Linked DNA regions of Homo sapiens. The protein of the gene in region 1 purifies or fractionates together with the protein of each later gene. This does not show direct contact. Each region holds a gene or a part of one and is shown in the gene's direction. Other genes may lie near its edges.

The links.
Region 2: the proteins of SNX33 (region 1) and ANKRD54 purify together in Homo sapiens (affinity purification with mass spectrometry; 2 studies listed by BioGRID and IntAct, with this or other methods). This does not show direct contact.
Region 3: the proteins of SNX33 (region 1) and BIN3 purify together in Homo sapiens (affinity purification with mass spectrometry; one large-scale study listed by BioGRID and IntAct). This does not show direct contact.

What each region holds. Positions count from the first base shown.
Region 1 is NC_000015.10:75,650,874-75,654,519, forward strand, and holds part of SNX33 (sorting nexin-33), read left to right. Parts: intron 1-3,646. UniProt on the Homo sapiens protein: Plays a role in the reorganization of the cytoskeleton, endocytosis and cellular vesicle trafficking via its interactions with membranes, WASL, DNM1 and DNM2. Acts both during interphase and at the end of mitotic cell divisions.
Region 2 is NC_000022.11:37,842,175-37,845,920, reverse strand, and holds the start of ANKRD54 (ankyrin repeat domain-containing protein 54), read left to right. Parts: upstream 1-1,586; 5' UTR 1,587-1,682; coding exon 1,683-2,010; intron 2,011-2,072; exon of another isoform or gene 2,073-2,304; intron 2,305-3,746. UniProt on the Homo sapiens protein: Plays an important role in regulating intracellular signaling events associated with erythroid terminal differentiation.
Region 3 is NC_000008.11:22,624,030-22,627,675, reverse strand, and holds part of BIN3 (bridging integrator 3), read left to right. Parts: intron 1-2,263; coding exon of another isoform or gene 2,264-2,375; exon of another isoform or gene 2,376-3,306; intron 3,307-3,312; coding exon 3,313-3,454; intron 3,455-3,626; coding exon 3,627-3,646. UniProt on the Homo sapiens protein: Involved in cytokinesis and septation where it has a role in the localization of F-actin.

The sequences.
Region 1 (3,646 bases):
ACAAACAAACAAACAAATGTGTTGAATATCAACTCTGTGTCTGTGGCAAATGTGCTTCTAGGTGCAGGGATATTGTTGTGCACAGGCCCGGTCTCTGTCCTCATGGAGCTTGATATTTACCTTCTTGTCAGTTCATTCATTTTCTCTGTTTGCATCTCGTTTACCCATCATGCATGGTGTCATGCTGGGTTCTGAGAACACATAGATGACCAGGCCCCAGGCCTTGCCCTTGAGGAGCCGGTAGGCCCTTGGGAGACACAGACCCAACCCAGATAACAAGAGCTCAGAGTGGGGGCCTGTCTTGTGCTCCTTGCAAGTTAACCTCCCCACCTTTGCAGCTTTGGAAGCTACTCTCACCACTGTGTATTCTCTTTATGAGCGTCTTGTCTGTGTGCAGGAAGATCCCTGTCCCCATTTTGCAGATGAAGGAGCTAGTGTCCACAGAAGAGTGGTTGCACAGCCTGTGGCCCGGCTGGGACTGTCCCTTCCTCCTGCCACCTCCCCAAGGACACGTCCATGTTGGCCACTTCCCAAGCCTAGCCATGTTTTCAGTTCTCATGACCCCCTCTGTGGGGGAGGGACAGGATGGGCCTCTGCCTGTTACTGCTGGGGCTGTCCATGAACTGCCGGGGAAATGACTCATCCTGGGTCACACAGGGGCACTCTGGCTGGGCCAGGGGTGCAGAATCAGGGGTCCAGGGCACTGTCCACATGGCCTATCCAACTCCTGCTTCCCAAGCCTGGCTTCTCTTCTTGCCTGAGGAGAGAGCCAGTGGCTGCCCCAGCAGGTGCCTGAGTCCTGGGCACAGCTGGGAGGGCAGATGTCAGGAGAGAGGTGTGATCCTCCCTGGGGCTGCTTGGTAACTCGTCTGCAGGGCGTGGAGCTGGCTCCCTGGCCCTTGGGCCCTGAGGTTAGACCTGGCTTGGTGGGGAGTTTGACTCTGGGTGGGGCCAGGGGGCAGACCTCTGCACTGAGCCTGGGGAACAGGAAACATGTCACCCACCACCACCAGGGAGGGCCTGGGGTAAGCTGGCCTTGCTTTCCTTTACCAAGAGGTTGACTTCTATAACTTCTCCAGCTCCCAGCCTCCTTTCTCCCCTTGCTATATCCTCTTCCTCTTCCTTTCTTTCTGTTTTTTTTTTTTTTTCTCTCATCTCTACCTTTCTTCCTCCTCCTCTGAACTCCAGGAAACACAAACCTGAGTGCTAGTCTTGGCTCTGCCCCTAGATTGCTGTGCGTCCCCGGGGAGTGCCTTTGCCCCTCTGGGCCTTAGTTTCCTGATCTGTAAAACAAGGGAATGGGGTCCCAGTGAGCCATCAGGCCTTCAAGGGAGTGGGTGGGAAGGGACTCCTGGGGAGGGTATGGCTCAGAAACAGAATGACACCTTAGCTCTGGCTCTGAGCACTGGGGCAGGAGTAGGGCAGGGGAGGTGGCCAGGCCTGCTGGGGGCCCACTGGGGCAGGTGTCTCCCTGAGCACAAGTGGGAAGGCTGGTTCAACCAGCTCCTTAGATGGCTTGTTCCTGTGCAGGCAGCAGGAGGGGGAATGCAATGATTAAACAGATGCTCCCATGCAGTGGCTGGGGACCCCCCACCCAGAGCAGAGCTGAGGACATTAGGGCAGCCCCACACCTAGGAAGGACACCAGGGCCTCCCAGGCTGGGGGGAAGCCAGACCAGCCTTTCTGACCCTGGGCAGAGAGACAGAGCTGAGATAGGCCATTTCTGAGTTTCTACTTGAGGTGTTTCTAAGAGTCAGAGGCCACTGTCCTCTGTGCTGGTGCATTTGACCTGAAACAGAGGCCAGCCCACTGCCTTCCCTCCCCGGGAGGACCCCTCCCAATGGGCCAAGCCCTCTCTGGCTTACTCTAAGTTCTGGGCTCTGCACTGCTCCTCCCAGGCCTGTGGTGTGGGGCAAGTTAGGGAGGGGGTACTGAGACAGAACTGGACAGGCTTTGGGGACCACAGCCCAATGGGAGTGATAAGGAGGGGGTCCTAATGCTGGCCTTAGGGGTGGAGCCCTTCTCAAAGAAAAGAGAAGAACAGTTGGGTCCTGGGCCCCCAGGATTCTGTCCAGCCTGTCTGGACATCTGAATGGGTGGTGAGTGTGTGGGAGGAAGGACAGTGGAGGCCTAGGTGGGAGTCAGGAGACCAGGATTTGGACAAACTTTGCATCTGACATGACTTTGGGAGAGATTTCTCCCCTCAGTCTCTAGGTGAGTAAAATGGGACCCGAGGGTCTTCATTTCCTTAGGAGGGCTCCATGTCATGTGAAACTTACATTAAACAAATTTGTATGCTTTTCAGAAAAATAATAAAATGAAATAAAATGGGACATAAACCCTGGCTGGAGCTGAGAGGAGCCTGGTCCTCCCACGGGCCTAGTCCCTGTAGCCCAATCCAGGGGTCTCCTAAGAGAAGGGTAACCATATAATTAACCAGGGCAGTTTGGGGCATAAAAGGGGGCCCTAGCAATAGTGATCCCGGGACAACAGGGGAAAGTAACTGTCCAGGGCAAGCTGGGACGTATGGACCCCCAACTTGACAGCCAGCAAGAGCGGGGCTGGTCCTAAGGCTCACGACAGGTCAGGAGGGCGATGTGGTCACTTCCGTTTTACAGACGAGGTGCAGCGATGCAGATGAGCCTCAGAGCAGGAGCTGGAGTCCAGTGTGTCTGGCTCCGCAGCCCAGGCTGTTTCCACTGTGCCCTCCCAGATGGGGGAGGGGATCCCCAGGGATGGAGAGCTGAGCCAGAAGGCGAAAGAGGAGGGAGGAAGGCTTGGGTGCTCCTTCACTGGTCCTGTGGGCTAGAGAGAGGCCCAGGACCACAGAGCTTCCATGGAGGGGCCATAGGGACAGCGTGGCCAAGGCAAAGTGGCGACTGTAGGGACAAGTTCTTGCCTGGGGGATGGGTGGGTTCAGCCTCTGGGTTCTGAGCCATCATCTAGCCTTCCCTCTACCGCTCATCCTGTAATCTCAGCACTTTGGGAGGCCGAAGTGGGCGGATCACAGGAGTTCGACACCAGCCTGGCTAACATAGTGAAACCCTGTCTCTACTAAAAATACAAAAAAATAGCCAGGCATGGTGGCAGGTGCCTGTAATCCCAGCTACTTGGAAGGCTGAGGCAGAAGAATTGCTTGAACCCAGCAGGCGGAGGTTGCAGTGAGCCGAGATCAAGCCACTGCACTCCAGCTTGGGCAGCAGAACAAGACTCCATCTCAAATTAAAAAAAAAAAAAAAAAAGAAAAGAAAAGCAGTTTTCAAGCCATAACATGTAGCATCTGGAGCTTCTATTGTATCTCAGGTGCGCTCCTTTGAACTGTGTACATATTAGTTCAGTTAAGCCTCAACTATACTATAGGGCAGGTACTATTATTATCCCATTTTACAGATGTGGAAACTCCTTAAAGCACTATACCGTGTGAGAGGTTGTCAACAGCATCACATCTAGTGCAACCTGTCCCACTGGGCAGTGGGGAGACCTGGAGCCCAGGCAAGAGCAGTGGCTTGCTGGAGAGGATACAGCTAGGACTAGGACTCAGACCTCCTGCTCCCTCCTGCCCCCAACCTGGGGTGGATGTTAACTGTCTCCAAGAGGCAGGGGCAAGATGGATTGAGGTGGGAGCTTAGGGAATATCCCTGGGACT
Region 2 (3,746 bases), on another chromosome or scaffold:
TTACAGGCGTGAGCCACAGCGCCAGGCCTTTTTTTTGTTTTTGTTTCTTTCTGAGATGGAGTCTCGCTCTGTCACCCAGGCTGGAGTGCCATGGTGCGATCTCAGCTCACCGCAACCTCTGCCTCCCAGGTTCAAGCTACTCTCCTGCCTCAGTGTCCTGAATAGCTGGGATTACAGGCGTGCGCCACCACACCCAGCTAATTTTTGTATTTTTAGTAGAAACGAGGTTTCATCATGTTGGCCAGGCTTGTCTTGAACTCCCGACCTTGTCATCTGCCCATTTTGGCCTCCCAAAGTGCTGGGATTACAGGCGTGACCCACCGTGCGGAAAGATTACATTTTAACTGGGTTGAGTGGGAGGGTTTATATATGGAAAGAACTTTTGCCAGGACACAAGACCTGGTCCGGTGAGAGCTGGGCAACTGTGAATGAGTCTCTTCCCTCTGCTTTTCAACTCCTCACCTATAAAATAGGGATGGTCCTTCTTGTCTACTTTATAGAAGTGCTTGTGGGGTACGGGATTGTGAGAAGTTTTATGAAAACGTGCACCCATGAAATGTTGCTTGAGGAACACTTATTTGTTTCCTGGTCTTCTCCCATTGGATTGTGAGCATCTCAGGGGCACCAAGTCTGATCCTGTGTCCAGGACCTAGCAGTTACCTGGCTCAGTGACTGGCTGTCGAACTAAACTATTGCTCTAATGTAATCACTTTGTATTACAAATCTTTGTAGATCAGTCATCTACGTCGGGGTTACCTAGAGAACTCTGACTAAAGGAAATCCATTGCATTTAGACACTATTACTCACAGTTTGTAGTGGTATCTCCAAATTTCAACACATTTTCCCTTTCCCACGTACATTATGCATTTGTGGGAAGTTCTTTTTTTTTTTTTTTTTTGCGTTCATTGATTTACAACATCTATATCTACATGGATGGCGTGGCTTCTTCATTTTCCTTTGTGAGTGCCTGCAAATCATCTTAATCTGATTTGCTAAGGTATCTGCTTGTTTTCTCATTAGACTGGGAAATGGAGAGGAAAAAGAAAAAAAAAGGCCGGGCGCGGTGGCTCACGCCTGTAATCCCAGCACTTTGGGAGGCCGAGGCCGGCACATCTCGAGATCAAGAGATCGAGACCATCCTGGCCAACATGGTGAAACCCCGTCTCTACTAAAAATACAAAAATTAGCTGGGCGTGGTGGCGCGCGCCTGTAGTCCCAGCTACTCGGGAGGCTGAGGCAGGAGAATTGCTTCAAGGAGGCGGAGGTTGCAGTGAGCCGAGATCGCGAGCCTGGCGGCAGAGCGAGACTCCGTCGCAAAAAAAAAGCGTCTGAAATGCTGTTTTACTGGCTCCGGTAGCGACGTACAGCGAAAGCCAAGGTCACTTCAAGTTTGTAATTGGTTACAATGTCTGTCAGTCACGTTGCCGGAAACCCTGTCCAATTATCCTGCTTGTACTGTGCCCTCCCTTTCCGATTGGTTTTGGGACCGGTTTAAGCTGGAAGGGTAGTCATTGGTTCGCCGCTCTGTCTCGGCCTGAGCCCGCCCCCGCTCGGTTGCCGTGGTTGCGGGCCCTGCCCGCCCGCCAGCTCGCTGACAGCACGACTCAGGGCGGAGGGAAGTAGGTCCGTTGGTCGGTCGGGAACGAGGCTCAGGCGGCCAGGCCCGCGCGGAGCCGTTGCCATGGCAGCCGCCGCCGGGGACGCGGACGACGAGCCGCGCTCAGGCCACTCGAGCTCGGAGGGCGAGTGCGCGGTGGCGCCGGAGCCGCTGACTGACGCTGAGGGCCTCTTCTCCTTCGCTGACTTCGGGTCTGCGCTGGGCGGCGGCGGCGCGGGCCTCTCGGGCCGGGCGTCCGGCGGGGCCCAGTCGCCGCTGCGCTACTTGCACGTCCTGTGGCAGCAGGATGCGGAGCCGCGCGACGAGCTGCGCTGCAAGATACCCGCTGGCCGGCTGAGGCGCGCTGCCAGGCCCCACCGGCGGCTCGGGCCCACGGGCAAGGAGGTGCACGGTGAGCGGCGCGAGCGGCGCGGGGGCCCGGGGCGGGGCAGCCCGGGCGAGGGGCGGGGCCTCAGAGGACCAGTGGCCGCGCTTTGGTCGCCCCCGACCCTCAGCCGGGGTCCCCCGACGTCTGCGCTGAGGGCCACACTGACCCTTGAGTCTCCTTTCAGTAACGATGGTGATGATGGTTTTTTTAGAAAGTCTTCCTGCTCTGAGCCAGTCACCCCAGTCTTCTCTCACTGGGTAATTTCTGAATGGAAACTTCCCATGACTCGGAACGCTTATTGGTGAATAATAAAATGAGGTACTGGGGAACACTTTTATTATCATGGAGAGGGGAGGCCAGAGCCTGCAGCCAAGTCGTACCAGCTTGTTTAAATGCACGGACTTGGACTCCTTTACCACAGTTAGACCTTAGGGCAAATGATAGACCCTTTCAACCTTAGTTTTCTTTTTAAATTTTTTTATTTTTATTTATTTATTATTATTATCTTTTTGGAGACGGAGTCTCGCTCTGTTGCCCAGGCTGGAGTGCAGTGGCGCCATCTTGGTTCACTGCAACCTCCGCCCCCCGGGTTCAAGCGATTCTCCTGCCTCAGCCTCCCGAGTAGCTGGGGTTACAGGCGCCCACTACCAAGCCCGGCTAATTATTGTAATTTTAGTAAAGATGGGGTTTCACCATGTTTGCCAGGCTGGTCTCGAACTTCTGATCTCAGGTGATCCACCCACCTCGGCCTCCCAAAGTACTGGCATAACAGGCATGAGCCACTGGCCCGGCCTCAGCCCTAGTTTTCTCATCTGTAAAATGGGATGAGTTAAGTAAGGTAATGGATGTTTAGCTGTTATGCTGCCTTTGCTGTGCCCCAAACACTGCTGATACATGATCATCTGTCCTCACAAGAACTCTTTGAGACATAGAAATTGTTCCCACTTTACTGAAGAGGAAACTGAGGCTCAGAGAAATTGTCTTATTCCAGGTCACATAGCAAGTGGCTGTTGCTGGTATTAGAATCCGGGTCAGCCCGACTCAAACTTCTCCTCTGGTATATCTACCATATTGTCTTCTACAATGCATGGGTGACATGGAAACCCAGGCACTGAGAGATTAAGAATGGGGACTTTGGGGATTTCTTCCAGGACTGGCTATGACTCTAGCCATATTTTAGTGATGTCACGAAGATGAAATAAGAATTTGGAAGCGTTGTATTGACCATAAAGTGCTGTATGAAAGCAAGGAATTGTCATGTATCTGAATTGCAATTTTTGACCATATCTCCGATGACAAAGACATTGCTTTCCATTAGCCATTGGAGGGGGAAAATCTGCTTAGGAAATACCAAATTTAGGCAAATCATTTGGGAACGACCTGCTTTGAAGGAGAATATAAGATTATCTGTGTAACCAGCTCACAAAGAGCTTCTGTGTAAATCATTTGCAATAACTCGGGGCTGGCAGAACAACTCAGCCTTGTTTTGCAGATGATAGACCTGAGGCCCAGCTGGGTTAACTAGCTTGCTCAAGGTCACCCTGTGACTACAAGTGATAGAGAGGAAATCTGGCTCCAAAAGTCTTGGAGGATTTGCAGGAGGATGTGGCCTTTGTACTAGCTCCGCCTCATTTCAAGTTTCTCCTTGTTCCCAGGGCACTGTCTTTCTTTTCTTTTTTTGAGACGAGAGTCTCGCTTTACCACCCAGGCTGCAGTGCAGGTGGTGCAATCTCGGCTCACTGCCTCAGCCTCCCAAGTAG
Region 3 (3,646 bases), on another chromosome or scaffold:
GGTGGGCAGGGAGAGAGGAGGGGTGAAGTGCGCTGGAACAGCAGAGTGGAGCCTGGGTCCTGGCTTCACGCCTGGGGACAGGCTCCCCCAGTGTGGTTGGGTAGAGTCAGCAGGGCCTCTGTGGGGTCCCAGGGACATATCTGGGAGGGGCTGGCACAGGCGCCCAGCCTGTGCACGTCTCCACCTCCCCTGCCAGCAGCCTGAGCCCTGACCTGAGATCCCACACAGCACCGTGGCACATCCACTGTCCACCCCGGGGCTTTGGCAAAGTCTGTTCTGTTGCTAAGAAGTAGAAAACGGGGAGATGGGGCCTCAAAGGGTCAGTGAGTGACCAGGGCAGATGTGACAGAGTCCTGGTCCACTACTCTTCAGCCACCTTGGCACAAGCTGCGCCCTGCCCTGACTGATGTGAGTTCCCACTGAATGTAGAAAGGTGTGACACTTGTCCCTACCCCTAGGGAATCCCAATCCCAGGACCCAACCTCCCCCCACCGTGGTTGTAATTTATCAGCAATCACCTCCAGTGGCCTGAGCAGGCAGAGCCTCTTGGTGGCTAAGGGGTGCTGTCATGGGAAACGGAGGTTTTCATGGTGAAGACATGCTCTTCCCACTGGGGCAGGCGGCCTGCAGAGGCAGGTGGTCTTGGTTCCAGGGGGCTGGCAGGAGCCCATGCAGCCAGGTGGCCACCTGGAGACACCACCACGCCATCCCCCGAGGAGCTCTGTAACCCGGCCTCCCTCACCCCCGCTCGGCACTCCGCTGTAGTCAGCGCTCCTGGTGGCTCTGACTCTGGCACAGGAAATAATAAGCCCCAGCCGACAGCTGTGGGAAGGGGGCTATGAGAGTGCCTCAGGGGATGTTGGGGGGTCAGGCTGCTGGAGCAACGAGCATAGGGCTCCTCCCATCCTGCACCGTGGAAGCCACCTTGCGCACACACGGCTTCACGCTGTGATGCCCTCCTTCCTGAGGATGTGAGCTCAGGGTGGTGGGATTGGGGCCAGGGCCAGAGAGCTCTCCACCTGCTGCCTCCTGCCTGCCTCATCCTTGCCCTGTCCCAGCGCCTGCACCTACCCGGCAGCTCCCAGGCACCCACAAGGCCCAGGCACTGGGACCATCCAAGCAGCAGGTGGCTTCTAACACAAGGATCAGGGCGAGGACCAGGGTAGCTGCCGGTGGTCCCTTGGCCATTTGGGGCTGAGGGAGAGGTGGCCTGGTAGCCTCTCAGGCCCAGCTGCACCTGCTGCCTGAACACGTGCCTCTCAGCTGCCCAGGAAGGGGGCAGGGCTCCCCAGCAGCTGCAGCTCCACCACGCAGCCGCCCTGGGCAAAGCATCAAGTCTAGCTCCTCCCAGCAGTCTCACCCCAGCCCACGCCATGGGCGACTATGCATCCTGGTGGTGTCTGCTTCCCACCCTCAGTTCCGTAGTGCTGAGGGGCCCGCGTTCTCTGTGCACAGTCCTGGGAGGCCCATGGCTTCTGCCCGGCAAGTCGGTCAGATGCTGGTTTGATTACTATGTCTAAGGGCACGGGTGAGCATTCAGGGTGCTTTGGTGGCTTCACCCACTTAGCACCTTGTTAAGACAGGGAGCCCCTTATGGACACTGTTGAGGTAGAGGATTCCTGTCTTGGGGATAAGCCCTTTGTTTCATCAAAATCTACTCCCTGGGTCTGACTTAGTTTGGGGGCATTTAATGCTTTGGTAAAGTTAATATCCTCTTACTCCCTGGCAAAACTGTTCATTACTCTTACCTCAAATGTACACTTGATTTGCTGAGGCTTTTTAAAAACAGGCCGGCCACGGTGGCTTACGCCTGTAATCCCAGCACTTTGGGAGGCTGAGGCGGGTGGATTACTCAAGGTCAGGAGTTCAAGACCAGCCTGGCCAACATGGTGAAACCCCGTCTCCACTAAAAATACGAAAATTAGCTGGGCGTAGTGGCACACGTCTGTAATCCTAGCTCTTCGGGAGGCTGAGGCATGAGAATTGCTGGAACCCAGGAGGTGGAGGCTGCAGTGAGCAGAGATCATACCACTGTACTCCAGCCTGGGTGAGAGAGCAAGACTCTGTCTCAAAACCAAATTCCTGGTCATGTCCTTTGAGAGGCACATCTGGGAGTCCTGCTCTGTGTGGTAGCTGAGCTCCTGGAACCTGACAGTGAGTCTGCCAGCATCCTCTCAACTCTGAGTGCCTATGATCCCAGTCTCAGTAACTGCTTCCTGCCCTCGTCTTTCCTCCTCTCTGGGTTCCTCATAAAAATGTCCAGGAGGAACCAACTCTTCTGGTCCTGGGTCACCTCCGAATGGCCACAGAGTCATGAGCTCCCTGGGCTGCGCAGCCTGATCCTGGACACTGCAGGGCTCTGGCTTGCCTGGTAGACGCCCCCTGCCATTGCACCGAGGGCCAGCCCTCCAGCAGCAGCAGCGAGAGCCTCAGGAGAGCACTGCTCCTGGTCACTAGAGGACACATGATCCACAAAGACGAGGCCGGTGTGGACCTGCAGCGTTGCATCGTCCACTGCTGCTCTCTCTGAGGGCCACTCCTCTGAGTCTCCCACGCGGTCCCTTCTAGTCACAGTGGAGGTCCTCAGGGCATTTTCCTGAAGCAGCTGGTTGGAACTTTGGCGGTTCCAATGGCAGAGCCAGAGGATTTCTGCTGCTTTCATGTTGCCAAGGAGCCCTTGAAGGAGAAGGTGCCCTGGGGCAGGGGTGAGTTTAGATTTCAGTTCTGCCACCTGCCAGTGGCACTGTGAGGGCTGGAAAGGGTGCCAGACAGAGAATGTGGACACCTGTGTTCTCTTCTAGACCTTCTCTGCCTCATCGTGACTTTGGATGAGTCATAGGTCATCTCTCTCTGTCCTCAGTTTCCCTCCTTTTTAAAAGTGAGGTGTTGGCCAGATGACTTCAAGGCACCTTCCCCACCATCCCCTAGTCCGTTGTGTGATAAAGCTCACAGGAGGTGGGGGTCAGGGCACCCTTCATTCCTGGGCCACCCTGTGCCACCCAGCTCCCTGGACCTGGCCCACAACCCCACCTCCTCTCATCTGCCCTCACCCCATGACATTGTCCACGTTCGCACAAGCTCCAGGGGACAGGGCCTCATCTGTCTTGTTCACAGTGAACTCCCCAAGACCTAGAGCAGGGTCTGGCGCTTGGTAGGTGCTCAGGGCACATTTTTGGACAAGTGAGTGCTGGCCAGGACGCCCCTCCAAGAGCGGACCCATCTCCAGCCAGGCCACCCCTCCAAGAGCAGACCCATCTCCAGCCAGGCCACCCCTTCAAGAACGGGCCCATCTCCAGCCAGCTTGTCCCACAGGTTCGGCAGTGTCTTCCCGAGCCTCAACATGGCTGTGAAGAGGCGGGAACAGGCCTTGCAGGACTACAGGAGGCTGCAGGCCAAGGTGGAGAAGTATGAGGAAAAGGAGAAGACGGGGCCAGTGCTGGCCAAGCTCCACCAGGTACCAGGGGAGACAGGTGGGCAGGGGCTAGACAGGTGGGCCATCGTGGTCACCTGTGGTAAGTCCCTCCCCTCACCTGGGGGCACCAAGACACCAGACGTCCCCACCCCACCCATCCCGTATCCGGCACCCAGCAGTGAGAGAGTTTTGACACCCAGGTCTTGTTCCCTAGGCACGAGAGGAGCTGCGGCC